4 linked regions of the Homo sapiens genome follow. The protein of the gene in region 4 purifies or fractionates together with the protein of the main gene of each other region. This does not show direct contact. Each region holds a gene or a part of one and is shown on either strand. Other genes may lie near its edges. The genes, in order: SNX4, OSTM1, RPP30 and INTS2.

Region 1 (8,108 bases), on a different chromosome or scaffold from region 4:
AGAACTCCTACAACTTGTTGGAAAACTGAGTTAATTCATTTCATATCACATACTCGAGTAATTTCTATTTGTAAATCAAACAAGTTTTCAGTCTTTTTTTTTTTTTGGAGATAGGGTCTCACTCTGTTACCCAGGCTGGAGTATAATCATGGCTCATTGCAGCCTTGACCTCCAGGGCTCAAGGGATCCTCCCACCTCAGCCTGCCAAGTAGCTGGGATCACAAGTGCACGCCACCACACCTGGCTTATTTTTTGTATTTTTTTTTTTTTTTGTAGAAATGGAATCTCACTATGTTACCCAGGCTGGTCTGGAATTCCTGGGCTCAAGCGACCTGCTTGCCTCTGCCTCCCAAAGTGCTGGCATCACAGGTGTGAGCCACAGTGCCCGGCTCGGTTTTTTCAATGTAATATTTGAAACAAAAAACTTCATTAGTCTAACAAATATAAATTGAGTTATTAAATTATCACTCTAATAACTAAAGTTTTGATAAAAACTAATTATGTACTAAATTACTGAATCCCTCTTAGTACCTGAAGTTACTTAGCACAGTTATAGATGGCCTAATATGCATAAGCAAAAATACATGTTTATAGAGATGTAACAGTAAAACTTAAGGGTTTTTTCCTTTTTTTTTTTTTTTTTTTTTTTTGAGACAGAGTCTTGCTCTGTCGCCCAGGCTGGAGTGCAGTGGCGCGATCTCGGCTCACTGCAAGCTCCACCTCCCGGGTTCACACCATTCTACCACCTCAGCCTCCCAAGTAGCTGGGACTACAGGCGCCTGCCACCATGCCCAGCTAATTTTTTGTATTTTTAGTAGAGATGAGATTTCACCGTGTGTTAGGCAGGATGGTGTCGATCTCCTGACCTCGTGATCCACCTGCCTTGGCCTCCCAAAATGCTGGGATTACAGGAGTGAGCCACTGTACCCGGCAAGGGTTTTTTTCAGTAAGGTATTTTTTCAATAAGATACATATTCTCCAATAATTACTCATTTATGAGAAAGGAACTTTTTAATACTTAATCATTAAAGTGTGTCATTTATTAAGGTTTTGAACAATTTTCTTTTTCTTCTCTTTTCTTTTTGAAAGAAGGTCTCGGGCCAGGTGCGGTGGCTCACACCCGTAATCCCAGCACTTTGGGAGGTGGAGGCAGGCGGATCATGAGATCAGGAGTTTGAGACCAGCCTGGCCAACATGGTGAAACCGTCTCTCCTAAAGATACAAAAAAATTAGTCAGGCATGGTGACACACACCTGTAATCCCATCTACTCGGCTGGATGAGGTAGAATTGCTTGAACACGGGAGGCGGAGGTTGTAGTGAGCTGAGATCATGCCATTGCACTCCAGCCTGGGTGACAGGGTGAGACTCTGTCTCAAAAAAAAAAAAAAGAAAGAAAGAAAGAAAGAAGGTCTCACTATGTTGCCCAGCCTAGTCTTGAACTCCTGGGATCAAGTGATCCTCCTGCCTCAACCTCCCAAATAGCTAGGATCACATATAAAAATCTATATCACTTAGGCAAGAAAACAAAACGACAAAATTGCATAGTACCATTCTTGGGAAACAAGGTGAACATAAACTCTTATTAAACTTTTTGTTTTACTAGTTATCTAAGGATTTGTGAATAAACCTACAAAATATCCAACAGTATGTCCAAATACAGCTATAGTAGTATCTTTTATATTCACAGATTAAATTTCTAGCACCCTCAACCACTGCAGCCTAAACAAAACGGAGGGGGAAAGTCCTTTGAGACATTATATAAAGGTCTTGCACTTTACTTTGGAAAGAAGTGAATGAGAGATCACAAGGAGCTTATTAATGAGTCTTTTACAGGAAAAACAAAAAAACTAAAAACCTTTGTTATCTGGTCTTTCAGATTTCTTGAGGTTAAAAAGTTAGATTGGAAAAAGGACTGTACTACTGGGTGTGGTGGCTCATGCCTATAATCCCAGCAATTTGGGAGGCCAGGGCGGGAGGACTGCTTGAGCCCAGGAGTTTAAGATCAGCCTGGGTGACACAGTAAGACCCCATTTCAACAAAAAAAGAAGAAAAAAGAAAAAGACAATGGATTGTAAATATCTAGCACCTAGCTGCAGGCAAGAAGAGGTGACAGAATGAAGGCAAAAAAAAGATAGAGATGCTACCAAACTACAACATACTCAACCTTTAGCACCTGCAGACTCAACAGTCACGATCTAAACTTGTTTTAAGTGACTCCAAAGATCCACGGTATACAGTAACTTATAATTCACTGAGCATAAATATGAATTTGTCCAAACCAAATGGAGCCCACTTAACCAGTGAGTGCGTATGGTGTTTATGCCTCAAAATATCTTTGTTCTCTCAGTGATGGCCCACAGCCAAAAAATAAAATTTTGGGACAAACTAAAGCATAAGAATTGTATATATATTTATATGAGTGTGATTTTGCCCTATAAATGTGAGAATTCATCTTACCATGTAATTTACTGAGATAATGCATGTAAAAGTGCTTGATAAATTATGACAGGTGATACAAATCAAAGCACTGGTACTGGTAGTCACACTGGCAGATCTTAGGTTATAAAAAAGAGGTTAAGGAATGTTTCCTATTTTGTTCTTAAACCAACGTTTTAGAAAGTCTTCCATCATTGTCAAACATTTATTTTAACTAGAATAAGCTTCAATGTTTGTATCTTTCACTATGGATATCAGCAACACAAATGATTTACTTTATGAGGAAGCATATCATAACCAGGTCTTCACGAAATAATGTTCAAGCTATTTTCCAATCAAAGCATATACCTGGAATGGTATTTTACTGTCTGGTCCAAGAGTACCATATGATCTAAATAATCTTGGTATATATTCTCAAATACAAGTTATAAATGGAGATACAAATTTGGACTTTAGATGAGTGGAGACTCAGTAATGGGCATACTGGTTGTAACACCAGTAGAGGCTGGACATGGTGGCTCGCACCTGTAATTGCAGCACTTTGGGAGGCCGAGGCAGGAGGACTATATGAGGCCAGGAGTTCGAGACCAGCCTGGGCAACATAGCGAGACCCCCCCATATCTATTTTTTAAATATTTAAAATTTTAAAATAAAAAAACCAAAACAAAATAAAACAGAAATCCTACAAAATTAAAATAGAGAAATTGGTAAACATTCTACAAGAGAAGAATAAAAATGAAAAATTTTTTGGTCAGGTAATTTAAATACATGTATAAGCACTTCTGAATATACATATATCTTCACTGAAACAGGAAAAACCCTACCTTTTTGCACATACTGATCTGCATGACTGCATAGCTTATGAGGGCCTCCTTTAAGTCTCGGTTCTTTTGTTCTTTGAAGCGTTCAATATCAGCCCATGCGTTTTTCACAAATTCTCTGAAATAAAAGGTATAGCCATTATTATTATTTAAGTTAAATAAACTGTGTACTAAAAAGTTAACCAGTTCTCATTGGCGTTGGTTTTTAATTGCCTATGTAGAAGGAAGAGTTATTGCTTGTATAAGACAGTTTTTTTATTTTCCTAAAAATTATAGTTAGGGAAAAAGCAAACAGACAGTCATATATTCTTGTACCTTTTAATCTACTTTTTCTTTTTTTTTTGAGACAGAGTCTCACTCTGTTGCCCAGGCTGGAGTGTAGTGGCGTGATCTTGGCTCACTGCAGCCTCTGCATTCCGGGTTTGAGCAATTCTCCTGCCTTAGCCTCCTGAGTAGCTGGGATTACAGGCACACGCCACTACGCCCAACTAATTTTTGTATTTTTAGTAGAGACAGGGTTTCACCATGTTGGCCAGGCTGGGCTTGAACACCTGAGCTCAGGTGATCTGCCCACCTCAGCCTCCCAAACTGCTGGGATTACAGCGTGAGCCGCTGCACCTGGCCTAATAATCTAAGTTTTTGCCACAAGGATTCTACCTTTAAATTATTCCTATAAAATACACATAGATGACTCCTTAAGCCAGCTCACAAACCTAACAGGTGTCAGTCACAATGAAGTAAGTGCCTTCCAGGGGTCACTGGAAAATATACACTCTTTTGACAAGATGGATTATGAATCACGTTTAGCATTTTTTTTTTTTTGAGACCAAGTCTCGCTCTGTAGCCCAGGCTGGAGTGCAGAGGCGTGATCTTGGCTCACCACAACCTCCACATCCAGGGTTCTTGCCTCAGTCTCCAGAGTAGCTGGGATTACAGGCACACGCCACTGCACTCGGCTAATTTTTTGTATTTTTAGTAGAGACAAGGTTTCACCATGTTGGCCAGGCTGGTCTTGAACTTCCGACCTCAGGCAATCCACTCTCCTAGGCCTCCCAAAGTGCTAGGATTACAGGTGTGAGCCACCACGGCCAGCTGCATGTACTTGTTTTAAATCACAACCAAAGTTTAAAAACTTTTTTAGCCAGGCTTGGTAGCCGGTAGTCCCAGTGATTCGGGAGGCTGAGATGGGAGGATCACTTGAGCCCTGGACTTTGAGGTGGCAGCGAGCAACAATGGCACCACTGCACTCCGGCCTGGGCAGCAGGGTGAGACTCCGTCTCAAAAAAATGAAAAATAATAATAAAAATTAAAATCCCGAGAGGTATTTGTTTTTGGAGACAGAGTTTCACTCTGTCGCCCAGGCTAGAGTGCAGTGGCGTGATCTCCGCTCACTGCAAGCTCCACCTCCCAGGTTCACACCATTCTCCTGCCTCAGCCTCCCGAGTAGCTGGGACTGTAGGCGCCTGCCACCGCGCTCGGCTAATTTTTTTGGTTTTTAGTAGAGACAGGGTTTCAGCATGTTAGCCAGGATGGTCTCAAACTCCTGACCTCATGATCCACCCACCTCAGCCTCCCAAAGTGCTGGGATTACAGGCATGAGCTACCGCGCCCGGCCTGTCTTTTTTAATTCTATCTATTACTTTGCCATATTTGGTGCTAGTAGTTCTAAAAATGAACAAAACCACCTCAAAACCCAAAATACACTCTTGGTCTGCCTTGGTCTATTCACTGACTGTCAGATGAAAACAAAAATAAGAAAAATGAGTCAAACAGTGATAGTGGGTCTCTGAGAACTGAATTTCTAGAAATACTTATGTAACAATTACATGCTAAGCCCTATGTAAGGCACTGGGATGTGAATGTGGAAAAGATACAATCACTGACTTTGAAGGGCTTAAATTTAGCCAGGGATAGTCACACAGAACAATCAATCATCTAATACAAAACTGCCATACCATACTGGCATGAATTAAATGCCGTGATAGCCTGAGAAGGCTTCACAATGAAGTAACACTTCAGCTGGGTACTGAAGGAGGGGAGGGGAGAAGAAATGGTGGAGGGAAAGTACAAAGGGTAGAAATCAGGAATAGTGCAGGAAAATAATATTATGAAGTTGAAACTTTTATTTCTCTTTCCCCCACATTGAAACAACTGTTTCTATAACATTATTTTTGATAATTCAACTTTCTTTTATTTTTATTTATTTATTTATTTATTTATTTATTTCTGTAGAGACAGGGTCTTCCTACGTTGCCCAGGCTGGTCTCAAACTCCCAGGCTCAAGCAATCCTCCCACCTCAGCCTCCTAAAGTGTCAGGATTACAGGCGTGAGCCACCACACCCAGCGTGATAACTCAAATTTCTTAGGAATGCATTTTAAAGGAATAGGCTGTATTCAGGGATGCCAATGAAGCTGGGAATTGTTACCAAAATAAATAAATAAATAAATAAAATAATCTACCATATAGTCTACAAGCCTAGCTTACTTAAACATCGCAGCATCTTTACCTGCCTTCCAGATTTTTAGACTTTAGCTGTTGTTCTCCTTCATTTATTTGTTCTTCTAGCACCTTTATTCTGGCTTCTCTCTGCTCTGGAGTTTCTTGACCAAAGAGCTTGGTAGTCATTCCCTTCAAAGAGAATGTTCTCACAGTCTAAAAGGAAACAGAAACAGATGAATGGATAAACAAAATGCGGCATACACATACACATACAATGGAACATTATTCAGCCTTTAAAAGGAATCAAATCTGATATATGCTACAACATGGATAAACCTGCAGGACATTATGCTAAGTGAAATAAGACAGATACAAAAAGACAAATACTGTATGATTCCACTTATATGAGACACCAGTGTTTACACTGTATTAGGTATTAATAATCTAGAGATAATTTAAAGCAGGGGGTCCCCAACCCCAGAGCCACGGAGTGATACCAGTCCATGGCCTGTTTGGAACCAGGCTGCATAGCAGGAGGCAAGCGACCACCTGAGCTCTGCCTCCTGTCAGATCAGCAGCAGAGGCATTAGATTCTCTTAGGAGCACGAACCCTATTGTGAACTGCGCATGTGAGGGATCCAGGTTGTGTGTTCCTTGTGAAAATCTAATGCCTGAGATGATCTGAAATGAAACAGTTTCATCCCGAAATCATCCTCAGCACCCCCTGCCCTGGTCCATGGAAAAACTGTCTTCCACAAAACAGGTCCCTAGTGCCAAAAAGGTTGGCGACTGCTGATTTAAAGTATACAAAAGGATATGCACAGGTTACATGCAAATACTACACCATTTTATAGAAGGGACTTAAGCATCTGAGGATTTTGGTATCCCAGGGATCCTTAAACCAATCTCACTGAAGATACTGAGGGATGACTGCACTACTGAACTATATACTTAAAAATGGACAAGATGGTACATTTTATGTTATATATATTTCACTACACACACAAAGGAAATAGAAAACATTTGCCATATTTCCCCTAAGTCAGACAAAACCACCATAAGCTTCACAACCAGGGATCTCTTATATGAGTTTTTATTTATTTTTACAGAGTCATAGCCAAGAATCCTAATAGAATTTCTAACACTGAAATAATATGGAGTAGTCAAAAAGAAGACACTTCTAACTGAATTTCTTTTTTTTTTTGAAATGGGGTCTTGCTCTGTTGCCCAGGCTAGAATGTAATGGCACAATCATGGCTCACTGCAGCCTCAACCTCCTGGGCTCAAGTGATCCTCCCACCTCTGCCTCCCAAGTGGCTGGGACCACAGGTGCATGCCACCACACCCAGCTAATTTTTAAATTTTTGGTAAAGACAGGGTCTAGCTATATTAATCCACACTGGTCTCAAATTCCTGGGCTCAAGCAATTCTGGGTTTACGCCTCTGCTGCTAAAGGTGTCGGGATTGCCATTGTAAGCTACCATACCCGGCTTGAATTTCATAATCAAATGGAAAACTTCCACGTGAAATATTAGACGTTATTTCTTACTCTGTATGAATGATATTTTAAAAATTACTTTATGTTATAAAAAAAGTCGATAAATTCACTAGGCAACTATGGAAATAAACCAAACTAAAGAAGCATATTTAAAATCTGCATAACTCAACGCTCAAACTTGGGCATCTATTAATAAAACAGGATACCTAAATCCAAGCATGGGAAGGCAACCCCAAGCTTCACTGCTTTAACATTTCCTCACTCTCTGGAGTTTACTGAAGAAAACACTTTTCCCTTGACATGTAGGATAGAGAACCAAGCTCCCTGAAAATGGCCTGGGAACTTCTCCCACTGAGTTTTAAAAATAAACCAAGGGCCTAGTTTATACATGTGTCCTGGTCACAAGTCTTTCCCCACATATATCTGTGACTTTTCACAGATGTAGCCAGTGGGTAATCTCTGTGAAAAGCACTTTTAAAACTATAGTGCTTGGCCAGGCGCGCTGGCTCATGCCTATAATCCCAGCACTTTGGGTGGCCGAGGCGGGCGGATCACGAGGTCAGGAGATTCAGACCATCTTGGCTAACATGGTGAAACCCCGTCTGTACTAAAAGTGCAAAAAAAAAATTGGTCGGGCGTGGTGGCAGGCGCCTGTAGTCCCAGCTATTCAGGAGGCTGAGGCAGGAGAATGGTGTGAACCCAGGAGGTGGAGCTTGCAGTGAGCCACACTCTAACCTGGGCAACAGAGCGAAACTCGGTCTAAAAACAAACAAACAAACAAACAAAAACTACAGTGCTTATTAACTAAGTAGAGACATTGCTGCTGGTTTACTACTTTCAGAATGTGTGTTGCTCACCATGATGGCTGATTTATTGCAATGAAATAACTGGAGTAGAAAGCTGATTATAAA
Region 2 (8,108 bases), on a different chromosome or scaffold from region 4:
CTACTAAAAATATAAAAAATTAGCCAGGAGTAGTGGCATGTGCCTGTAATCCCAGCTACTCAGGAGGCTGAGGTGGGAGAATCACTTGAGCCTGGGAGGCTGAGGTTTCAGTGAACCAAGTTTGCACCACTGCACTCCAGCCTGGGTGACAGAGCAAGACTCCATCTCAAAAAAAGAAAAAAAAAATGACGGAACAGAGCAAGGCTGGTTCATCAGGGGAAACCTACAAGCTGAATCTCAAGGCATTCTTTCTACCCTTCTTTAGTGTGAATGGACATGGATTGATTGAGAGAGGAGAGGAGTATAATAAGGAGAAAAAAAGAATCAAAGCCAGAAACTAGTAAGCTATTTATGTGGTACAGCAATATAATTAGTTTAACTATAATAGAATTCCCTGATAAGAATCCTAGGTTCTTGTCACTTCCTTTTAGAATTTCTGGGAGAGGGATCGCATATAGTTTCATTATCTCAAGGTGAAAAATACAGTGATTTCTGAAACCTGAATGATAGAACTGAGGGATTCCCTCTTCCTTAGAGTCATACTTTCTCCTTTTAGTTTAAACTGATAGGGACATAGTTTCATTGTGATTCAGCATTATCGGAATGGTCCTGAGGATGCTTTTGCCCCCTCAGATTCTGAATTGGTAGGCTCTGTCCTATTCTACTTGGTTTGTTTAAAATTTAGATAGTGTTTAAAATTTAGATCTATAGATCCATCCATCTACCTATCTATCTCTATCTATCTATGTATCTGTGTATCTTTGTGAAGTGCTAGTCATTTGGGTTATGTATTTGGTGAGTATTCAATATACTTTTACTGTAGATTATTAAATAATGAATTCTGAGGACTATAGGGAGAAAGCCAGAACATAGTGTAATAATCTGTGTCTTTCATTAGAGATCAGAAAATGTAATATTTCTTCTGCATTCATTCAAAAAAATTATTGAGTACCTATTATGTACAGGTTGTGGTAGCTACTAGGGATATAGCATGAATGAGCAGAGCTTGTAGTCTGAAGACAGACATTAAGCATCTCATTATACAAATAATTATTTAATTCATGTGTGATAAGTGTTGCTGATTAAAAAACCCAGATGCTACCAATGCATATGACAAGAGTGCTGATCTTGAGTATGACTGGGGGGTAGGTAGAATGGTCAGTGATTAAAGCAGACACCTACAATTTGAGAGAACACAGGCAGGGGAGGGAAGGTATACATGTAAAGAAATAGCAGGCATGAAGACTGAGATGGGAAGGAGTTTGTGGTGTATCTGAGGTCTAGAACACAGCACAGTGAGCAAGAAGGAAACCCGTGGTCTGAGCCTAAGGAAGTACACAGGTGCCAGGTCATGTGGGCCTTGTAGGGTATGTTAAGGATTTTAGACTTTGATTTTAAAGCAGTATGACGTTAGTGAAAGGTTTAATTCTGTGGAATGACATAATCAGATTTGTACTTTAAAAGGCTATGCTGGCTATGTGACAGAAAATGGAGAGGGTAGGGGCTGGGGAGGGTAGGGGAAGAAGATATGTGGGGAGATGAATTAGGAGACTGTTGCAGTGGTGTGAGAGACAGTGGTGTCTAGGCTATGTGGGGGCCATCATGATGTGGAGAAATGGGTGGATTTCAGAGATACTTAGGAGGCAGAAATTACAGGCTTGGAGGTTAATTGAATGTGGGGAGTAAGGAAAAGGTAGTGATGATTTCCAGGGTTTTAATAAGAGCAGCTTAATGAATAGGGTTGTCATTTACTGAGCTGGAGGGAGGAGTCTGTTTAGTGGGCGAAGATCATTAACTCAGTTTTGAACGTGTTGATTTTGAGGTGTTTATGAGCTTTCTAAGTGGATATATTGATTGCCTATGTGGTTGAATATACACATCTAGAGGACTGGACTAGAGATAACACCTTTGGGAGTGTCGGCATAAAAATGGCATTTGAAATTATGACATGGGTGAACATACCTGAAGAATGAGTAGGAACACTAAGAGTTTAAGATTAAATAGAGGGTAAACTCTCAAAGGTGACTGAGAAGGAAGAATTGGAGAGATAAAGAAGAATGAGGAGAGCATGATGCCCTGTAAATCAAGGAAAAGGGAAGGGGTGGTTATTTGTGTCAAATCCTGCTGAGAGAATTGGAGATATATCTGTCAACACTGGCAGTATTGGTGACACTAACAAGAGTGAATTTGATGGAGTCCTTGGGTACGAAAGTGAGATCAGAGTGGGTTGAACAGGGATTGGAAGATGAGGACATGGGAAGAGTGAACCTAGACAACTGCTGAAGAGTTTGGCCTTGATGGGGAGATAAGAAAGAGAAGTCACTAAAGAGCAATGTGGGACTCAGAGACTTTCTTTCATTTCTCTTTCTCTATTTTTTTTTTTTTTTTTTTTTTTAGACAGAGGCTCGCTCTGTCAACCAAGCTGGAGTGCATGGCACAATCTCGGCTCACTGCAACCTCCACCATCCCAGGTTCAAGCGATTCTCCAGCCTCAGCCTCCTGAGTAGCTGGGACTATGGGTGTGCACCACCACACCCAGCTAATTTTATACTTTTAGTAGAGATGGGGTTTCACCAGGTTGGCTGGACTGGTCTCGAACTCCTGACCTTAGGTGATCTGCCTGCCTCGGCCTCCCAAAGTATTGGGATACAGGCGTGAGCCACGGTGCCAGGCTGACTTTCTATCATTTCTTTCCATTCCCCTGTCCCTCCATTCCTCTGTCCTGCCTTCCCTTCTTCCTTGTCCAAGATGGGAGAGAGCTGGACATGTTTAAATGTTGATAGTAAGGGTCCTTTAGAGAAAGTGAAGATTCTGTAGGAGGGAGTGGGAAGCAGACAAGGTCAGTTTCCAGAAAAGGCAGGATAGATGGGATCTAGGGCATCCTCAGAGAGATGGGCCTTGAAAAGGACAGGTGCCTTCCCCACCTTAATGGGAGGGTAGAAGGAGAGGTTGCATGTAGGGGTAGGCAGGTTAGAGTTTCAGCTCGAAGGCTTCTGTTATCCAGGAGGCTAGATCTTCTTTTGAGAGTAAAGAGTGGGAGAGAGATCAGAGTTTCTGGGAGAGTGGAGAGGATTTGAAATAGCGGTTGTAAAAAGGAGAGAATGAGCAGACAGAAAAGTGAGGAGTACGGTTTGGGATTATGGATTTACTTTGGAATTAATCTGTGTTGTTAATTTTTTGCCAGCAGCTCCTGACTTCCTGGGTGCAGGCATGATCAAAGGAAATGGCTGGCTTCAAGATGGTTAGGGTTCTGCTAAGTAGTTAGGATAGATTTGAGTATTAAGAGTTCTAAGTATAAGCAAGGACCATTGATTTTTTGGTCACTTGGCGAGGTGTTGGGAATACAAAGATGTGACAGTTTCCATTTTAAAGGGACATCTGTCCAGAAGAGAAACCTAAACATATATAGGTGGATATCATGCTTTAAGAAACCATGCATCAGGGTAATGACGCATGGGTCCCACATTGCTCTTTAGTGACCTCTCTTTCTTATCTCCCCATCAAGGCCAAACTCTTCAGCAGTTGTCTAGGTTCACTCTTCCCATGTCCTCATCTTCCATTCCCTGTTCAACCCACTCTGATCTCACTTTCACACTCAAGGACTCCATCAAATTCATTCTTGTTAGTGTCACCAATACTGCCAGTGTTGACAGATGTACCTCCAGTTCTCTCAGCAGGATTTGACACAAATAACCACCCCTTCCCTTTTCCTTGATTTACAGGACATCATGCTCTCCTTATTTTTCTTTATCTCTCCAATTCTTCCTTCTCAGTCACCTCTGATAGTTTACCCTCTACCCAGCTAACACTACCTATTTCATAGAGTTGTTATGAGGATTAAATAAGGAAGTTGGAACATTTGGAACTGGTAAGTAGTAAGTACCTCATCATCGTTTGGATTATTAATCATTTCCTTTCTGTCCTCACTGTTGCCATCATCCTTTCATTATACCTGATCTATGGAAGTAGTGTAATGAGTCTCCCTGCCTCCTCACCCTACATATCACGGCCTAAAGATGTATTCCTCAAACTGCTTTTCATGACACCCTCCTCATAAATCTTAAAGAATTTCTCACTGGCTAACTCTCATGACCCTCACGGCCTCTCATAACCTTGTTCTAACTTAGCCCTTTAATAGCCCTACTTTCATAGACTACTGAATACTCTCCGAATACCACATAATCATTATCACTTTCACCCCATGATCATTTAATTCTTCTATTTTCGAATCCTCTTCTCTTCCTCAATATAGGGCTTAGTTCATATCCTGCTTCCTTCATGAACTCTTTCCTAATTTCTCAAAACTACATTGATATCTTCCTGAACCGAACTGTTCCACACATTGAACACTCATACAGGCTCTACTGTATTGATTTTTAAAATAGCCAGTCACCCACTTATGAAGATTCAACTTAACCAACTAATGACACTTATCCAACTAAACCTACTTAGAGCACTTCAGGTTGGCAGCATGGTAGCTAGGTGAAATAGCATATATCAGTCACTGTGTGCCAGACAGTGTGCTGAGTGATTAATGTATGCTATTTCATTTAATACAGTAACTGTAGGACCCCTGATTTTGAAACTGAACCTTAGCGAGGTTGGGTCAGCTGCCCAAGGTCACTAGCTAGTGACCCAGGCTTGTATTAATACAATATTATTACTTCTACTTAAGAAGTGATAATAGGCCAGGCATGGTGGCTCATGCCTGTAATCCCAGCACTTTGGGAGGCCGAGGCAGGTGGATCGTCTGAGGTCAGGAGTTCGAGACCAGTCAGGCCAACATGGTGAAACCCCGTCTGTACTAAAAATAAAAATTAGCCAAGCATGGTGGCATGTGCCTGTAGTCCCAGCTGCTCGGGCGGCTAAGGCAGGAGGATCGCTTGAACCCAGGAGGCAGATGTTGCAGTGAGCTGAGATTGCGTCACTGCACTCCAGCCTGGGCGATAGAGTGAGACTCCATCTCAAAAAAAAAAAAAAAAAAGTGATAATAGAAAATTTTCTTCTATGGCTGGTATTGCTCAGAAGGTAATTCTAAAAAAGAGTTTTAAAATGTTCTGTTCATGGCCAGGTGCAGTGGCTCATGCCTATAATCCCAGCACTTTGGGAGGCCGAGGTGGATGGATCATTTGAGTTCAGGAGTTCAAGATCAGCCTGGCCAACATAGTGAAACCCCGTCTCTACTACAAACACAAAAATTAGCTGGGTGTGGTGGCATGTGCCTGTAGTCCCAGCTACCTGGGAGGCTGTGGCATGAGAATCGCTTGGATTTTATATTTTAAAGCAGAAATTCTTCCTTTTCTCCCTCTTTTCTCCTTTTTTCCATTTCTTCTCCCACATGACTGACCATTTGTTTCCCAGGAGTTACCACTCTTTTATTATTCATCACACTGTATAACTCCTTGTCTGTGTAACTGCGAGAGGTTCTCAAAGCCCCAGAATTGATGGCATTCTTTTATACTTTTTATATCCTCAGAACTTCAGGATTTTTATAGTGCCTAGTAAATAGTAGGAGTTAAATAACTTTGAAAGAATTAAGGGTCAGCAGGACTTAGTTCCTTGCTTGGGGCACGAAGGAAAGGAAATAGATAAGGATCAAATGATTTGGGAACTTGGATTTATTATTTGCATAGCATGAGTTTCTTTCATTATTAAAATGATCTACAAAAGCATATTTTTCCATCTGGGTACAAACTATTTAGATAACAAAGATTTTCTTCCTTTGCAAGTGAACCTAGTACCAATAAATGTTAGCTGCTAATTACTTTATTATCATTGTTTTTATTAATGTTAACATCTGATCATATCAAACAAAATGTTAAAAAGCTTATAATAAATGTTATTTTTGTAAGGTTTTTGCCTCAAGTTGTTTGCAAAGTCTGAAAATACTCAGATTGTATTTTTCTGTCTTCTTTTTGTTACAGAATACTTCAGAGAGTCAGAGTTGTGCCAGAAGTCTCTTAATGGCAGATAGAATGCAAATAGTTGTGATTCTCTCAGAATTTTTTAATACCACATGGCAGGAGGCAAATTGTGCAAGTAAGTAATTCTTTCATTTTCATGTTGCAGTTATGGTTCAGTAGTACAGATGTCAGATTTTATTTTAGTGAATTTTGGGATCTTTGAAGCTGGATAATACTTTTTATTGCTAAGTTTAAATAAACTGTCATGGACACCATGGTTTATTAATGGCAACTGAGCAAATAGCGAAAGGCAGAAAAGTGTAGCAGTTACTATGAGCTTTGGATTTAGATAGACTTGGGTTTGATTCTAAGCTCTGCCACTTACTAGCCCTAACCTACTAGCTGTCAGATATGGGAGAAAAACTTTGCCTCTTGGAAGTTCAGTTTCTTCATCTGTAAATTGGTGGTAATGATAGAACCTATCTTATATAGTCGCCTTGAGAATGAAATGAAATAAATTGTGTAAAGCACTTAGCTCAATGCCTGACACGTATTTAGTGTTCAAGAAATGTTAACTGTTTAGTATAATAATAATTATGATGTTTACAGTAATCTGTCAAGTGGTGTGTGGCAGGCGGCGGGGTGGGATGATGACATCTGTTCTACCTTCTTTGCAGGTTTGTGTGTAATTGTGTAATAAAATAAGATCTATTTTTAGATATTCTTTGGAAAAATTAAAATCACTTCCAATTCAGATGATGTTTTGAATACCAACTATGTGCTAGGCAGTTCTTATTTTTCAAGTCTTATAATTTAATGAGTGAGAAAGATATATTTACAAATACAGCCTAGGACAGACACATAAATGCTTTAATAAAGTTATAGAGTCCTTGGAGGAAGAAGAAAATAAATCTTACTGGGGAGAATTTGAAATGACTTCCTGGAGGAGCTACCTTTTGAACCTAGGCCTGTACTATTGGACATGATTTCAATAAGTAGAGATGACGCCAGTGAGGCGGCTCACGCCTGTAATCCCAGCACTTTGGGAAGCCAAGGCAGAATTGCTTGAGCCCAGGAGTTTGAGACCAGCCTGGGGAACATAGTGAGACCCCCATCTCTACAAAAATATATATTTTTTAAATTAGATGGACATGGTGGTGTGTGACTGTAGTCCTAGCCACTTGGGAGGCTAAGGCAGGAGGATCCCTTCAGCCCAGGAATTCAAGGATGCAGTGAGATATGATTGTGCCACTGCATTCCAGCCTGGGCAACAGAGCAAGACCCTGTCTTAAAAAAAAAAAAAAGTAGAAATGAGAGAAGGACATTGCAGGTAGTCACAGAGGTATAAAAGGGCAACAGATGTTCCAGGAAGCATAGTGGGAGGTAAAGTTAGCAAGGGAAAGTAGGACCTTGACTGACAGAGTAGTATACTATTTGGGCCAACATTTTTTATACTGCTTAGAATATCAGCATATTATTAAGAAGGGGTTATAGACCAGGCATGGTGGCTCACACCTGTAATCCCAGCACTTTGGGAGGCCAAGGTGGGAGAATTGTTTGAGCCTAGGAGTTCAAGACCAGCTTAGGCAACATGGCAAAACTTTGTCTCAACAAAAAATAAAAAATTAACTGGACTTGGTGGCATGTGCCTGTAGTCCCAGCAACTTGGGAGGCTGAGATGGGAGGTCAAGGCTGCAATGAATCATGGTTGTGCCACTGCTCCCCGCTCTGGGCAACAGAACGAGACCCTATCTACAACAACAATAACAAAAAAAAAAAAAAAAAGAAAAGAAAAGCTTATATAGTATTCTCCTATTATGATTATATAGTATTCTATTAGCCATGGTTTCACTTGCTGTAGTTTCAGTTACTGCAGTCAACTGCAGTCCAAAAATATTAAATGGAAAATTTCAGAAGTAAACCATTTATAATCTTAAATTGTGTATGATTCTGAGTAGCATAATGAAATCCCATGCCATCCTGCTTCATCTACTTGGGCTGCGAATCATCCATTTGTGCAGCATATCTATACTGTAGATGCTGCCCCTCCTGTGAGGCACTCAGGAGCATCTTGGTTATAAGGTCAACTGTCATGGTATGGCACTACTTGTGTTCAGGTAACCCTTAGTTTACTTACTAATTCTTTAATAATAGTAACATAATTATTAGTTTTTGTTTTTAATCTCTTACTGTGCCTAATTTATA
Region 3 (7,967 bases), on a different chromosome or scaffold from region 4:
GAATGTCTCTTTCCATGTATTCTAGTCTTTATTTTCCCTTTATTCTCTTATTACTTTCATTAAGTTTTCTTTATAGAGGCCCTACACATTTCTTGGTAATTTATGTCTTTGTGAATAGTGTCATCTTTTAAAATTATTTAACAGGTTATTAATCAAAATCTGGTTTTTGTGTATTTATACAATTGGCCACTCTGCCAAACTTCATCTTGGTTTGGCAGAGGTATTGGCATCTTGTAGCAATTAAATTAGTGGTTCATTCTAACGAAAGTAAATATTAGAAGGAAACTTGCCTCTGCTATTCACTGGTGATCAGCCATCATGCCCTACTATCATGAACAATGGCATAAACATGTATGAATAGAAAGCACGCACAACTGCAAACACATACTACACAAATGTGTAGTAAATGGACGTAAGCTGAAAGGTACCTGTATTTCTACTTTTTTCCCATTTATTTCACGAGTTTTCCAAGACAGTCGTATCTGCAAATAATTTTACCTCCTTTCTATAACATGAAAATCTTACTGTATCTGGTGCAACTGTAGCTGGTACATCACTAATTCATAAATTAAGGTGGGACGTCGCAAAAAATTGAACATACATCCTGTTAAGCATTTTAAGCTTAAAATAGATAAATGTATACTTGGGTACCAACCTTTTAAAGAAGGGTCAAAGCCTGTTCTTGGGAGTATGATCTCTCTGATGAGAGATCAAAAGTTGTCTTTGTTGAATTCTAGTTCCTTTAAAGCAGAAAAGGAACTTGACATTAGTGAAGCAATCCAAGTGCAGAGTTTTTACTGATCACCCCCAAATTTGTTATCCTTCTCATATCTAATTTGACAGCAGTTCTTTGTAATGACTCTTTTCCAAACCTTTCCAAAGTGTTGACTTAGTTTTCCCGGGAATTTTTCATTTGCCCCCAATAGCTCATCAATTTTCATATTTAAAAAAATAATTTACATACAATGCTAAACACAGCTGCCTTAAACAGATTTGTGAATAAACACAGCTGACTTTTGGTGAACTTAAGCAGGGTGAAGGAAAAAAGCAAACTGGCACACAAGGAAGTGGCAGACTTTTGGTGTGTGGCCTCAGCAGCACCAGCCTCAGTTTTACAGAAGGAATGAGTAGGTTAATCCATCAAATTGGCCAAGCGGTAGTCAAAAATGCTTTTGGAGCCATCACATTTAATATACACAAAAAACAGACACATATGAACATATATATGTATGCATACAATATTATTCTACTTTAATTTTGCCATGGGTTTTTATTGTTGTCATTTTAAAAATCAGGAGTGGATTTAACTTTATTAAATGTCTTTCTGGCATCTATTAAAAATATTCTGATTTTTCTCTTTTGACCTATGAATATGATAAAGGATACTGCATTAAAAAGAACTGGAAGGCCGGGTATGGTGGCTCATGCCTGTGCCTGTAATCCCAGCACTTTGGGATGCTGAGGCGGACAGACTGCTTGAATCTGCCAGGAGTTTGAGACTAGCCTGGACATGGCAAAACCCCATCTCTACAAAAAAATACAAAAATTAGCTGGGATGTGGTGGTGCATGCTTCTGGTCCCACTTACTTGGGAGGCTGAGGTGGGAGGATGGCTTGAGCCCAAGAGGCAAAGGTTGCAGTGAGCCGAGATTGTGCCACTGCACTCCAGCCTGGGTGACAGAGTGAGACCCTGTCTCAAAAAGAAGAAGAAAAAAAGAATAAATTTCACCTGGTCATGATGCACTTTTAATGTTTTTTTAATCAATATTTTATTTAAACATTTGTATTCATTGGTGAGGTTATAAAGCTTTCTCTTTTTAAAACTGTATTTTCTCGGGCCGGGCGCAGTGGCTAACGCCTGTAATCCCAGCACTTTGGGAGGCCGAGGCGGGTGGAATATGAGGTCAGGAGATTGAGACCATCCTGGCTAACACGGTGAAACCCCGTCTCTGCTAAATACATGGCGAGCGCCTGTAGTCCCAGCTACTCAGGAGGCTGAGGCAGGAGAATGGCATGAACCCAGGAGGCGGAGCTTGCAGTGAGCAGAGATCGAGCCACTGCACTCCAGCCTGGGGGACAGAGCGAGACTGTCTCAAAAAAAAAAAAAAAAATTGTATTTTCTCCAACCCGCAGAACAGTTGTCTTTCTCTTGCTTAAAAAAATTTCTTATTCAGTTATACCTCTGGCTCTACTCCATTGTTTTAGAGCCCTTACATTAATATTGCATAAATGCATGTATTTGCATAAAAAGCTACTTCTACTTAACATGATCCCATTATAAAAATAAATTATTTCCAAAGTTGGTTCAGTCCGATGCTTTGCTATTTTTAATACAGCTATCAGGAAAATCAATATTAGCGTTTTAGGGGTTTCTAACTAAAAGTAAGGAATCCTATTTCAAAGACCTTACGTAGGCATGAAGCAGTGAAGGAAGAGACCAGATGTAATTTTACATGTGTATCCTCTCTCCTTCCACAAATTCTATAGCAATTTCTTAGAAAAAAATGCTGATTTGAATACATGAAAGAAGCTTAAAACAAGAGGAACTAAAGTCACTTCTTCAATATAAGTTTGAATATCTTCAAAATAACTACTATTTGAGTATGAACAAGAAACTTTCGAAAGAAGCTCTTAAAATATTCAAACATCTGGCTGCATGTGGTGGCTCATGTAATCCCAGCACTTTAGGAGGCCAAAGCGGGAGGATGGCTTGATCCTAGGAGTTTGAGACCAGCCTCAGCAACATAGTGAGACCATGTCTCTACAAGGGAAAAAAAAAAAAAAAAAAAAAATAGCCAGGTGTGGTAGTGCACACCTGTAGTTCCCGCTGCTTGAGAGGCTGAAGCGGGAGGATCACTTGAGCCCAGGATTGAGGTTGCAGTGAGCTGTGATTATGCCACTGTACTCCAGCCTGAGCAACAAAGACCCTATCTCAAAAACAAAATGAAACAAAAATACCTGAAACATTTTATTCAAGTATATTTGCTGTTGTTTATCACTTACACAAAGGAGAAATAACCAGTCTTTCTCTCTTAAAGTACATCTAAATTCATTAAGCTGGCAGCCTTTTAAAAAGATGCTTCACTAGGTTTCGTTTGTTGTTTTAATGGATTGCAAGTAAAACTGTTTTTATAGACTATTGATTTCTAGCTCCAAATGAAAACAGTAAATCACACAAAGGTTTTATTTTTGTTGTGGCTGATGAACTATAAAAGGGAAGAAGGGAGTGCTGACAGAGACTGGGGCATTCTTTTCAGCCCTCACACTTGGCTTTCTTGGAAGCTGGAAGACAATCTTCATCTCCTTCTGATGGCCGAGGTTTCTTCACTGTAGAGATAATTCCAAAAGCAGTTTTTCTAGTTTCTGTAAAACAAACAGGGAAACCACTGTGCTTGAAGTTAAGACATAATTTAAAATGAGGTGGTTTAACATATTACTTTGGCTTACAGCAATAGCAAATGATAAGCCATAATGAACTGCTATGGCTGCTAGTGCCATTTACCGTCATTATCTTTTTTTCCCAACAGACACAAATATCAGTATATTATTAACATCTAATTCATTCCTAAAGATTACCTCATGGGTAAAACTGCAGGACAGTGTTATCTCTAATGGTCTGTCCATGGCATCTTATGTAGCCAGAACCCAGTCACAGACATTGATGTAGCAGACACTTTATATATGGTAGACAGACAAATCAAGAGAGCAAACACAGCAATCAAGTGTATGGCTCCCATGTGGAGCACATGCTTGCCTCATTTTACAGCATGTACCCTATCTCTCTTATTAGAACATCAAGGTACCTCTGAAGAATCAATTGCATTATATTGCCAACACTCAACAATGGCCTGGTTATGCAAAATGTGTTCAGTAAATACTAGTTGAGTTAATGAATAAAATCACTCATAAATTTATTGATCTCTTTAACTGGTGACAATGAACAAAGAATAAATAGAAATTATTAAATGCTTAGATTAGGCTGGCAGCAGAGTTCAACTTAAATTTAACCAATTTTTCCTAGAAACCTACTAATAGGCTAGGCACTGTGTCCATACAGAGGGTATTAAGATTCCTAACAGACAGTGCTTTTCCCTATACTACATGCATGCGAGAAGCACAATAAGAGCAAATATAATAGGAATGGAGGCATCCACAAGAATTAACTGCCTGGTTAAAGCAATGAGGTATTATATAAAGGTGACACTACTCAGAATAGGGTAAACGGAGTAAGAAAAAGAGAAATATTCCTTTACAAAGGCATGGAGAGAAAGATAAGAAGAACCTAGGTAAAATAGTTTAGGGGACAATATGGCTGATGTGAAGTAGGAATACAAAAAAATTAGGAGAAAATAGAGTTTGGAAGGGTAACTTATGAAAGGCCATAGTGTCATGAAAACAGACCCAAACTCTGTCCTTAGAAATGGAAAGGGATTATGGAGAAAGAGAGAGATACCCATTAGCTACAAAGGTGGCAGAATCAAAAGAACTTGAACAGAAATTTAGCTATGAATTATTCCTTATTTCAAGTAATAAACGTAAAGTCAACCATAAAGTGTTAAGCATTATTTTCCCATTTATCAAGATTAACTTAGTAAATCTACTCTGCCAATTATTTTAAAACACTTTTATTTGTAAAAGGGATAAAACTGCTCTCAAGGTCATTAAAATGCCAACATAATAAGAACCTCAAAATAAAAACTGTCAATGATTTCCATTTCACCAAATGAAAAACGTCACACTTATAGCTATTAATTTATGTCACTGATTCTGTACCCATAGTCTAAAAATCAACTGAAATATAAACATTATGAAAATCAGCACTTTTTAACAAAATGCATTAATTTCTTTAGTGTCTTTTAAAAATAAATGCATTTCTTGGTAACAGCAAGACGTTACATTTGTGTATGCTTTAGTTTATAAAATGTTTTCACATATAGTATTTCCTTTAATCATCTTGCCAAGGAAAATCTAAAGGATTATCTACGAGTGAATAATTTTGTTCACAAGGGGCTAAGGCAGGTGTCCCCAACAGGTTCATTTTGGTCCAGGGGCTGATTGAGGGCATGAACTTTATCAATCACAGGCCAAAGACCCTGACCTTGGGCCTCTTTCCTCTGTCCTTTCCCCACAACCTCCTCAGAATTGCTATTCATTGGTTTCTAGATTTCTGGACCCCCAAAGAACCTAATTCTGATTTCCTGTGGCAAGCCTTCCAAGTTGAAAGCTAACTACCATGTGTCCCAACTCTTCTGCTTGCCAGGTATCCATGTCTGCACCACCCTCGTGATTCCTCTCATCATGAGGCTTCCAGACCCTTTAAGGACTGAGTAGACATTTTCCAATAGTGTTTCAGTGCACTGCTGTCCTTCTTAAATGTGGCACTCAGAATGATACAGATGCCGGCTGAGATTTCATCAATGAGAGTATAATAACGAGGCTTTGAATTTCCTTGTCTCAGAATCCTTTATTTCTTCTAATATTACCTAGGCTGAATTAGCAATCTTAAGAACACATCATACTACCGTCTCATACTGATCCCAATGGCAACGAAAACCAGGGTAACCATATTTTATCATCTAGTTTAGGACTCTCTTCAGGGAATAGAAGTGCTAATAAGGTCACAGAAACAGCAGGCATAAACTAGAACTGTCCTGGGTACACTGGGGTGAATGGTAATGCCACCCAAAGTTCACAAGTCTTCTTTAAGTTTAGCTTCTATAAAAGCCTGATTTTAGACACAGAAAGACAAACATCACATGTTCTCACTTGTTTGTGGGATCTAAAAATCAAAGCAACTGAACTCCTGGAGACAGAAAGTAGAAGGATGGTTACCAGAGGCTGGGAAGGGTAGTGGGGGGCTGAGAGGGAGGTGAAGATGGTTAATGGGTACAAAAAAAATAGAATGAACAAGGTCTAGTATATGATAGCACAAGAGGGTGACCATAGTCAATACAATTTAATTGTATATTTAAAAATAACTAAAAAAGCATAATTGGATTGTTTATAACACAAGACATATGCTTGAGGGGATGGACACCCCATTTTCCATGATGTAATTATTATGCATTGCATGCCTATATCAAAATATCTCAGTACCCCATAAATATATACACATACTATGTACCCACAAAAAGAAATTCTAAAAAAAAATACTTTACATATTATGTGTTATATGCTGAATAGCTGAGTTCTTAAAGTCAAATGCAGGACTTCCTATTTTCCTATATATAAAATTATGTATGTATTTATATTTTAGTTTCTGTTTCTTGTTTAGTCCATTTTGGAACCCCAACTGTTACTCAAAATCCTGATGAATGTTTATTTAAAATAGATCAAAATAATGACAGAACTATCAAAGTGTGAACCAACTGTTCCCTAATTTCAAGAAAATCATTATTCAAAATCTCCATTAATTTGACCACTCCCAAAGCTTATGTGATGAGTTCTAGGCTACATAATACAAAAATCTCAAACTAAAAATGTTGAAACTAAAAGCAAAATCATCTAATTTACGGCAAGCCAATACATAAGCAGTTCTCTCAAGTGGAAATCAGATCAATAAAGCCCAACACACAAGCCCTCAATAACCTAGCTATTCATATGACAAATAACTCAGTCTATATGTAGCAATCTACTTTGAAGTTTAAAATTCACTTGGGTGATATCAATGAAATTGCTTCTTAACCACTACAACTAGTCCTAAGAATTATAAAGATAACGAAGACAAAACAGTGATCAAAAGCTTAAATTGTTTTAATAAAATTTCACTTTCATTTTCCAAAGTTTCAGCATACTTTCAATTTTTAACATCTGATGAGCAGGAAACTCAGTCAGTGAAAAGGTACATATACAAAATGTGAGTAAAAAATGTACAGTCTGGCCGGGCATGGTGGCTCATGTCTGTAATCCTAGCACTTTGGGAGGCTGAGGTAGGAGGATTGCTTGAGCCCAGGAGTTCAAGACCAGCCTGGGCAACATAGTGAGACTCTGTCTCTATTTAGAAAAAGAAAAAAAAATAAAAAAGGTACAGTCTGGACACAACTTGACCATGTAAGCAAACATGAGAAAAGAAACATTCTGAGTTATAATAAATGTAAAAGTTACAGTCTATGTTTTGTTAGTTGGATTTTTAAAAATGTATTTGCTGGTTTTGTTTTCCTAATAAATAGTTTAACACATATTTTTAACATATCCGTTCTCTAAAACAGAGATTTTCAACAGGGAAAGCATGGCCTTCTGGTGAGGGAGAAGAAGGAAGGGAGATTAGAAGCCTATCAAAATGTCGGCAGGAGCACACATGTATAGCTGGAAGAACTATTCAATACTTATTTCTGTAATGAAAACTATATTCATTCTACAAACTTTAGAAAGTAAAGCCTGAAGTGAGGGTGAGAAAACACTGATGACTGTGTTTAGAACAGGTTGAGAAAAGATGATCCCAAAGGAACTCTGTAGGGTAGGGCAATAAAAATAGGTATGGCTGTAAAAATGACTTGCTTTTAACATGACCATTCAGTTTGTACTGGAAGAACTTGCTTACCTCCATGGAGAAGCGCTGCTCGGCAGTTGGTGGACACCGCAGCCTTGGCGTCACTTTCAGAGAGCCCAAACAGCAAGCCTCTTGGGGGAGCATTAAAGATTTCAACCCAGAGTCACCCAAGGACACGAGACTAACACAAACATAACAGAAAGTGCCAGCTAACCTGGTCATCTTGAGAGGCTAATTAATTCAACAGCAGTTCTTAGTCCAACTGGAACATGCATCTGAGAAAAGACTCATTTAACTCTAAGCTTTTATCATATGAAGTCCCTCATTCCCTCTTTTCTATCTCATGATTAATTAAAAAACAGAAGCATAAAGCTCTCTATAATGTTATATAATTTATTTTTGAAGTTATTAATTGGTAAACTTACAGTAAAAGGTTGAGAAAAATACATGTTCAACTATAATACGACTTCAAATTCAAA
Region 4 (8,108 bases):
AAATATTGACAAAAATGTATCTGACAAAGGCCTAATGTGCAGAATCTATAAGGACATAAACAATTCAACAAGCAAAAAACCACCCCATTAAAAGTGAGGAAAGAACACGAACAGATACTTCTCAAAAGAAGACATATAAGCAACCAAAAAACATGAAAAAAAATGCTCCATATCACTAATCATCAGAGAAACACAAATCAAAACAATCATGAAATGCCATCTCACACCAGTGAGAATGGCTATTAAAAAGTCAAAAAATAATAGGTGCTAGCGAGGCTGTGGAGAAAAGAGAACACTTACACATTGTTGGTGGGAATGTAAATTAGTTCAGCCACTGTGGAAAGCAGTTTGGAGATTTCTCAAAGAACTTAAAACAGAACTACCATTCGACCCAGCAGTCTCACTGCTGGATATATACTCAAAGGACAACAAATTGTTCTACCAAAGACACATGCGCTTGTATGTTCATCCCAATACTATTCACAATAGCAAAGACATGGAATCAACCTTGGTGCCCATCAACAGTGGATTAAATAAAATGTACATATATACCATGAAATACTATGCAGCCATTAAAAAGAATGAAATCATGTCCTTTGCCGCAACAAGGATAAAGCTGGAAGCCATCCCATCCTAGGCAAATTAACACAGAAACAGAAAACCAAATACCACATGTTCTCACTATAAGTGGGAGTTAAACATTGGGTACACATGGACATAAAGATGGGAACAATGGACACTGGGACTACCAGTGGGGAGGAAGAAAGGGGACAAGGGCTGAGAAACTACCTATTGGGTACTATGCTCATAACCTGGGTGACGGGATCATTCAAACTCCAAACCTCAGTGTCATACAATATACCCATGTAACAAACCTGCACATGTACCCCCCTGAATCTAAAATAAAACTTCGAATTTTTTTAAAAAGAAAAATTAAAACAAAGGTGACAACAAATTGAATAATATGTAAATAATGTTTAGAAAGGGGGATATAACTATAAATGTGAAAACTAAGAATAAAGAAATCAAATTTGACTTGGGGAAAAAAGTATATTTTATAATGAAAAAAAGGCTCAATTCATCATAAAGATATAATCATCCTAAATGCATATAAACCCAACAAAAGAGCTTTGAAATACATGAAGCAAAAACTGACAGAACAAAAAGAAGAAATAGGCAAATCCACAATTATGTCTGGAGACATCAAAACTCCTCTCTCAGTAATTGACAGAACAAGTTGACAAAAAATCGGCAAGGACACAGTTTACAAAGAGTTTTTACATATCATCTGATATTCAATAAATCTCTTAAAAAAGTCAGGGAACTATTACACTATCAATATCTCCATTTTACAGATGAGAAGTATTTTGGTTTGTTTGTTTGTTTAAGACAGAGTCTCACTCTGTTGCCCAGGCTGGAGTGCAGTGGCACATATCGGCTCGCTGCAACCTCCACCTCACAGATTGAAGCAATTCTCCTGTCTCAGCCTCCTGAGTAGCTGAGATTACAGGCATCCACCACCAAGCCCAGCTAATTTTTGTATTTTTAGTAGAGACGGGGTTTCACTATGTTGGCCAGGCTGGTCTCAAACTCCTGGCCTGAAATGATGCACCCACCTCGGCCTCCCCAAGTGCTGGGATTACAGGCATGAGCCACCGTGCCCAGCCAGATGAGAAGTATTTTGATAGAGCTCACACAATAAGTGAATGACAAAATCAGGAATTATAACTCCAGTACTTTTTCCTCCCAGGCTCCTAATTCACAAACTACCTTGCTCAACAAAATGTTTTTATTTTTATATCACTCATACCCAAACAACAACCTTCAATCACTGTAAGTTTTAAATAGAGGTGAAAAAATGTAGTCGATTTTTCTCAATTTCTACTTTATACTTCTCTGTAAACTGACAGCAGTAGGGCTAAAAAACAAAGGTCTGATTCCTAGCATTTCTCATTATACATATCCCGTATTGCTCTCTTGATATTTCACTGATACATGTATCTTCTTTGATCCCTGATTATAGATATTACATCTTCTAGTTCCTTGGGGTTTTTTTTTTTTTTTTTTTGAGACGGAGTCTCGCCCTGTCGCCCAGGCCGGAGTGCAGTGGTGCGATCTCGACTCACTGCAACCTCCACCTCCCAGGTTCAAGCGATTCTTCTGCCTCAGCCTCCCCAGTAGCTGGGACTACAGGCACCCACCACCACATCCAGCTAATTTTTGTATTTTTAGTAGAGATGGGGTTTCACCATAGTGGCCAGGCTGGTCTCAAACTTCTGACCTTGTGATCTGCCCGCCTCGGCCTCCCAAAGTGCTGGGATTACAGGTGTGAGCCACTGCGCCCAGCCTGATCTTTAAACTCAATACAATTTGTGAACTCAATATTTCTTTATACATACTAACAAACTTTCAAAAGATAAAATCTCAAATAAAATCCCATTAATGTTTCTTCTTAGGTCAAAAAGATAGGTCCTGTACATGTCCAAGCAAGTCTTTTCAATATACCATATTAGAATCATATTTACCTTCATTAAAACTATCAGGAACATTGGCCACCAAGAGACACAAGAACCAGGCACCATTTCTAACATGTAGCAAAGCTTCAGCTACATCAACTATAGGGAGCAAGGAAGGGAGCTCTACAAGAAAACAAAGTCAGTGTTAGTCTTTGTTAACAGGTGCACTCCACCACACCCAGCTAATTTTTTTTATTTTCTGTGGAGACTGAATCTCACTGTGTTGCCCAGGTGGGTCTCAAACTTTGGCCTCAAGTGATCCTCCAGCCTCAGCCTCCCAAAGTGCTAAGATTACAGGCATAAGCCACCATGCCTGGACCCAGTGTTAAAGAGTGATATTTCTTTTTTTCTTCTTTAAGACAGGGTCTTGCTTTGTTGCCCAGGCTACAGTGCAGTGGTGTGATTATAGCTCACTGCAGCCTCAACCTCCTGGGCTCAAGCAATCCTCCTGCCTCAGCCTCCTAAACTCCTAGAATTACAGGCATGAGCCACCATGCCCAACCAAAAATGACATTTCATTGTATTATTAAATATCTTTTGACATTTCACAAATGTCATCTAAAATAAAGTACTTTCTTTTCATAGTCTAGAACCAAGCTGTCCAGTAGGATACCCACTAGCAACATAAGGATACTTATATTAAAAACAGTTCAGTTCCTCAATCACACTAGCCACATTTCAAGTAATCCACAGCCACAAAGAACACTGGACAGCATAGCATAGAACAGTACAGGAAATTTTATTTTATAGAACTGGTCTAAAGAGTTATTTTCACGAAAATCTTATTTGCTTTTTTTTTTTTTTTTTTGCGACGAAGTCTCGCTTTTGTCCCCCAGGCTGGAATGCAATGGCGCAATCTCAGCTCACCGCAACCTCCGCCTCCAGAGTTCAAGCGATTCTCCTGCCTCAGCCGCCCGAATACCTGGGATTACAGAAGCCTGCCACCACACCAGGCTAATTTTTGTATTTTTAGTAGAGACAGGGTTTCACCATGTTGACCTGGCTGGTCTCCAACTCCTGACCTCAGGTGATCCACCCACCTCGGCCTCCCAAAATGCTGGGATTACAGGCGTGAGCCACCGTGCCTGGCCTATACTTTTTTTTTTTTTTTTTTTTTTTAAGAAAAGGTCTGCAGCCAGGCACAGTGGCTTATGCCTATAATCCCAGCATTTTGGGAAGCTGAGGCAGGCAGATCACAAGGTTAAGAATTCGAGACCAGCCTGGCCAACATGGTGAAACCTCGTCGCCACTAAAAATACAAAATTAGCTGGGCATGGTGCCGCATGCCTGTAATCCCAGCTACTCAGGAGGCTAAGGAAGGAGAATCACTTGAACCCCGGAGGCGGAGGTTGCAGTGAGCCGAGATCACACCACTGCACTCCAGCCTGGGTGACAGAGTGAGACTCCATCTCAAAAAAAAAAGACAAGGTCTCACTCTGGACAGAGTGCAATGGCACAATCATGGCTCACTACAGCCTCAATCTCCCAGGCTCAAGCCATCCTCCTGCCTCAGCTTCCCATGCAGCTGGGACTACAGGTATACACCACCACACTAGGCTAATTTTTTTCATTTTGGTAGAGACAAGGTCTCACTATGTTGCCCAGACTGGTCTTGAACTCTTGAGCTCAAGTGATCCTCCTGCCTCGGCCTCCCAAAGTGCTGGGATTACAGGCATGAGCGACAGCCTTCTTTACATTTTTCTGTCCTCTTTTATTTCTATCATTCACACCTATTATATACAATCTGGAAAATACAAAAAGGTACGAAGAAGAAAATTAAAATCTGCCCTAATCCCAGAATTCAAAGTTAATAAAAAATGTTTTCACAGGCCTGTAGTCCCAGCTACTCAGAAGGCTGAAGTGGGAGGATCCCTTGAGTCCAGGAATTCAAGCCAGTGGGCTATGATCCTGCCACTGTACTCCAGCCTGAGCAACAGAGCAAGACTCTGTCTCTAAAAAAAAATAAGTATTTTATTTTAATTCATCAAGGGTATTGTTCTTGAACTTTTAACAAAACTGGGATTATAGTCTACTTAACACTTTGCCCTTTGCTTTTTTCACTTAACATATTGTAAACATTTTCCAAAATCATTAACGAGCATTAAAGTCATTAAATCAAAGATACCATGTTAATGTCTGCATAATATGTCACACTATGAAAATAATATAATTTACTTAATCATTGTCCAACTATTAGTCACTTTTGACTTAAAATCACATAACATGTTTGTTATATGATCCCTAAAATAACACAGCATACCAGGCTAAGAAGTTACACAGTATCATTTAACAAGAAACTATATATGAAATCCATCTTAGCACTCAGTACAGTACCTGCTTGTAAAATACAAAGTACATCTGCAGCTTCCTCCAAATATACTGGACTCTCAAAAAGTTCAGAAGACTTGAAAAAAAATTCTCCGTTGGACTCAGACACCTTAAAAAAGAAAAAAAAAAGATATAAACTCTATTAATTTCAGATAATTAAATCCCTATTTTTATAATTATTTCTTGAGCTCACAGATTATGTCTCTTAATGTATCACTAATATACCACAGCAGAATATGCAGTATTCAATCAATTTCAACCAATTTAACCACACACAGCAGTCATGTTAATTATTATTCAGATATAGCAGTATCAATCTCAAGAACTGATTTCTATCTAAATATTTGGAGACAACTGGAATTAAAGGATAAGGCAAGCCAAAGAAATGAACTACAAATGCAGCCTACATAAACTGCTTTAAAAAAGCCAAGAACAGTCAACCTAAAGCAGTTTAACAAATATAAATTCATGGCCAGGTGCAGTGGCTGACGCCTGTAATCCCAGCACTTTGGAAGGCCAAGATGGGTGGATCAACTGAGGTCAGGAGTTCGAGACCAGCCTGGCCAACATGGTGAAACCCTGTCTCTACTAAAAATATAAAAATTAGCCAAGCATGGTGGCCATCTGTAATCTTAGCTACTCAGGAGGCTGAGGCAGGAGAATCGCTTGAACCCGGGAGGTGGAGGCTGCAGTGAGCCGAGATAGCACCACTGCACTCCACACTGGGAGACAGAATGAGACTCCGTCTCAAAAAAAAAAAAAAAAAGAAAAAGAAAAAAGAAAACAAACAAACATATATATATATATATATATATATATATATATATACGTGTTCAATTCTGAATAAACTGTTGGAAAAACAAAGAATTAAAGTTTAGATAACAAAATCTACTAAGCTTTTTGGAAATTCTGCACAATAGTTTCATAACCATATTTCCTATATAATGAAGAGTGCCAAACTAAAAAATTGGAAATCTCCCAGAGGAGAAAGGTCACTTATTTATTAGAGTCACCAAGTGAGGTATTACGGAAAAGATGAAGGAAAACTCTTGGCTGAAATTTAAAAGTATCAAAATAGGCTGGGCATGGTGGCTCATGCCTGTAATCTCAGAACTTTGGGAGGCCGAGGTGGGAGGATCACCTGAGGTCAGGAGTTCGAGACCAGCCTGGCTAACATGGTGAAACCCCGTCTCTACTAAAAATACAAAAATTAGCAGGCATGGTGGCGGGTGCCTGTAATTCTAGCTACTCAGGAGGCTGAGGCAGGAGAATCGCTTTAACCCAGGAGGCAAAGGTTGCAGTGAGCAAGATCACACCATTGCACTCCAACCTGGGCAACAAGAGCGAAACTCTGTCTCAAAAAAACAAACAAAAATAAATAAAAGTATCAAAATAGTAAAAAAGAGAAGGAAATTATAATTGGTGATGGAAATTTTAGAAAAATTTTTTAACATACCTTAAAAACTGTCTAAAACTCGGCCGGGCGCAGTGGCTCGTGCCTGTAATCCCAGCACTTTGGGAGGCCAAGGAGGGCGGATCACGAGATCAGGAGATCGAGACCATCCTGGCTAACACGGTGAAACCCCGTCTCTACTAAAAATACAAAAGATTAGCCAGGCATGGTGGCGGGCACCTGTAGTCCCAGCTACTCGGGAGGCTGAGACAGGAGAATGGTGTGAACCCGGGAGGCGGAGCTTGCAGTGAGCCGAGATTGTGCCACTGCACTCCAGCCTGGGCGACAGAGTGAGACTCTGTCTCCAAAAAAAAAAAAAAAAAAAAAAAAACTATCTAAAACTCACCAAAATCCTCTCTACCAGTATTTTCTATGAAAACAGAATTTAGTCCTTTCTCTTTTTGTCCACAATTTATAAAACTAAACTTTATTTACTATAAATTAACTGACTCCCCAAAATTATAACAGTAAATAAACATAAAGATCTAATTTAGTGGGTTTTTGTGGTGGTGGTGGTTGTTGTTTTTGAGGCAGTTTTACTCTTGTTGCCTAGGCTGGAGTGCAATGGCACAATCTCGGCTCACCACAACCTCCACCTCCCAGGTTCAAGCAATTCTTTTACAGGCATGCACCACCACTCCTGGCTAATTTTGTATTTTTTAGTAGAAACGGGGTTTCTCCATGTTGGTCAGGCTGGTCTTGAACTCCCAACCTCAGGTGATCCGCCCACCTCGGCCTCCCAAAGTGCTGGGATTACAGGCGTGCACCACCACGCCCAGCTAATTTAGTTATTTATATGATAGAACTTTGACATTCAAAAATTTTAAATTCAGAGTTTCAATTAACTATATTACCCAAAGGTCTATGACCTAAGTAATCTATAATTTTACAAAGAAGATAACTTGAATAGCTTTCATTAGTGTAAAGAAGCACTTTGGTCATTTAGTGATTGAGACTAGCCAATCATCCTACATTCAATTCAGCATTGATACTCCCCTCTGCTGTCATATATGAGGCTGTTACTGCTCATCCAGTGTCTAAATGAATCACATACATTTTTCAGTTATTCACATTCAGTTATTGAAAATGTTACTTCATTACACTTTATGGGAGAAATTGTATCCCATAAAGGTATTATCTGCTAATAAATTTGATAATCTGTACAAGCCTTGAGATAAATCCCTTTCTAAATGTCAAGAAGCCACTGTGTATGGATTCCATACGGAAAAAAATCCCTCTCATAGAAAATGCAGAACAAGTATAAATGAGAGAAAATGATAATTAAGAGAAGGACTTTAAGGCAGACTTATAATATCCTTTCAGGCTTTGAAAGGAAAACAAATATATAGAAATAAAAGTAGAGAAGGCCGGGCACGGTGACCCATGCCTGTAATCCCAACACTTTGGGAGGCTGAGGCGGGTGGATCACCTGAGTTCAGGAGTTCGAGACCAGCCTGGCCAGCCTGGTCAACATGGTGAAACCCCATTTCTACTAAAAATACAAAAAATTAGCTGGGCGTGGTGGCGGGCACCTGTAATCCCAGCTACTCATGAAGCTGAGGCAGGAGAACCGTTTGAATCTGGGAGACAGAGATTACAGTGAGCTGAGATCACACCACTGCATTCCAGCTTGGGCAATAAGAATGAAACTCCGTCTCCAAAAAAAAAGAACAAAATAAGAGTAGAGGAGAATTCAACCTGCCTGACTTCTTGTCTCTTTTTCTGTCTACCTCCCTATACATAGACATCAAATCATGCATACTTTGAGCTGTGGTTAAAAGAAATGCACCTTGTTCATAATTGCCAACAGT

Evidence for each region.
Region 1: the proteins of INTS2 (region 4) and SNX4 fractionate together in Homo sapiens (co-fractionation; one large-scale study listed by BioGRID). This does not show direct contact.
Region 2: the proteins of INTS2 (region 4) and OSTM1 purify together in Homo sapiens (co-immunoprecipitation; one large-scale study listed by IntAct). This does not show direct contact.
Region 3: the proteins of INTS2 (region 4) and RPP30 fractionate together in Homo sapiens (co-fractionation; one large-scale study listed by BioGRID). This does not show direct contact.

Annotation. Positions count from the first base shown.
Region 1 is NC_000003.12:125,448,044-125,456,151, forward strand, and holds part of SNX4 (sorting nexin-4), read right to left. Parts: intron 5,913-8,108; coding exon 5,767-5,912; intron 3,377-5,766; coding exon 3,262-3,376; intron 1-3,261. UniProt on the Homo sapiens protein: Involved in the regulation of endocytosis and in several stages of intracellular trafficking. Plays a role in recycling endocytosed transferrin receptor and prevent its degradation.
Region 2 is NC_000006.12:108,062,116-108,070,223, reverse strand, and holds part of OSTM1 (osteopetrosis-associated transmembrane protein 1 precursor), read left to right. Parts: intron 1-5,924; coding exon 5,925-6,039; intron 6,040-8,108. UniProt on the Homo sapiens protein: Required for osteoclast and melanocyte maturation and function.
Region 3 is NC_000010.11:90,895,965-90,903,931, reverse strand, and holds the end of RPP30 (ribonuclease P protein subunit p30), read right to left. Parts: intron 7,620-7,967; coding exon 7,540-7,619; intron 3,363-7,539; coding exon 3,253-3,362; 3' UTR 1,741-3,252; downstream 1-1,740. UniProt on the Homo sapiens protein: Component of ribonuclease P, a ribonucleoprotein complex that generates mature tRNA molecules by cleaving their 5'-ends. Also a component of the MRP ribonuclease complex, which cleaves pre-rRNA sequences.
Region 4 is NC_000017.11:61,916,875-61,924,982, forward strand, and holds part of INTS2 (integrator complex subunit 2), read right to left. Parts: coding exon 8,087-8,108; intron 4,954-8,086; coding exon 4,851-4,953; intron 2,640-4,850; coding exon 2,526-2,639; intron 1-2,525. UniProt on the Homo sapiens protein: Component of the integrator complex, a multiprotein complex that terminates RNA polymerase II (Pol II) transcription in the promoter-proximal region of genes.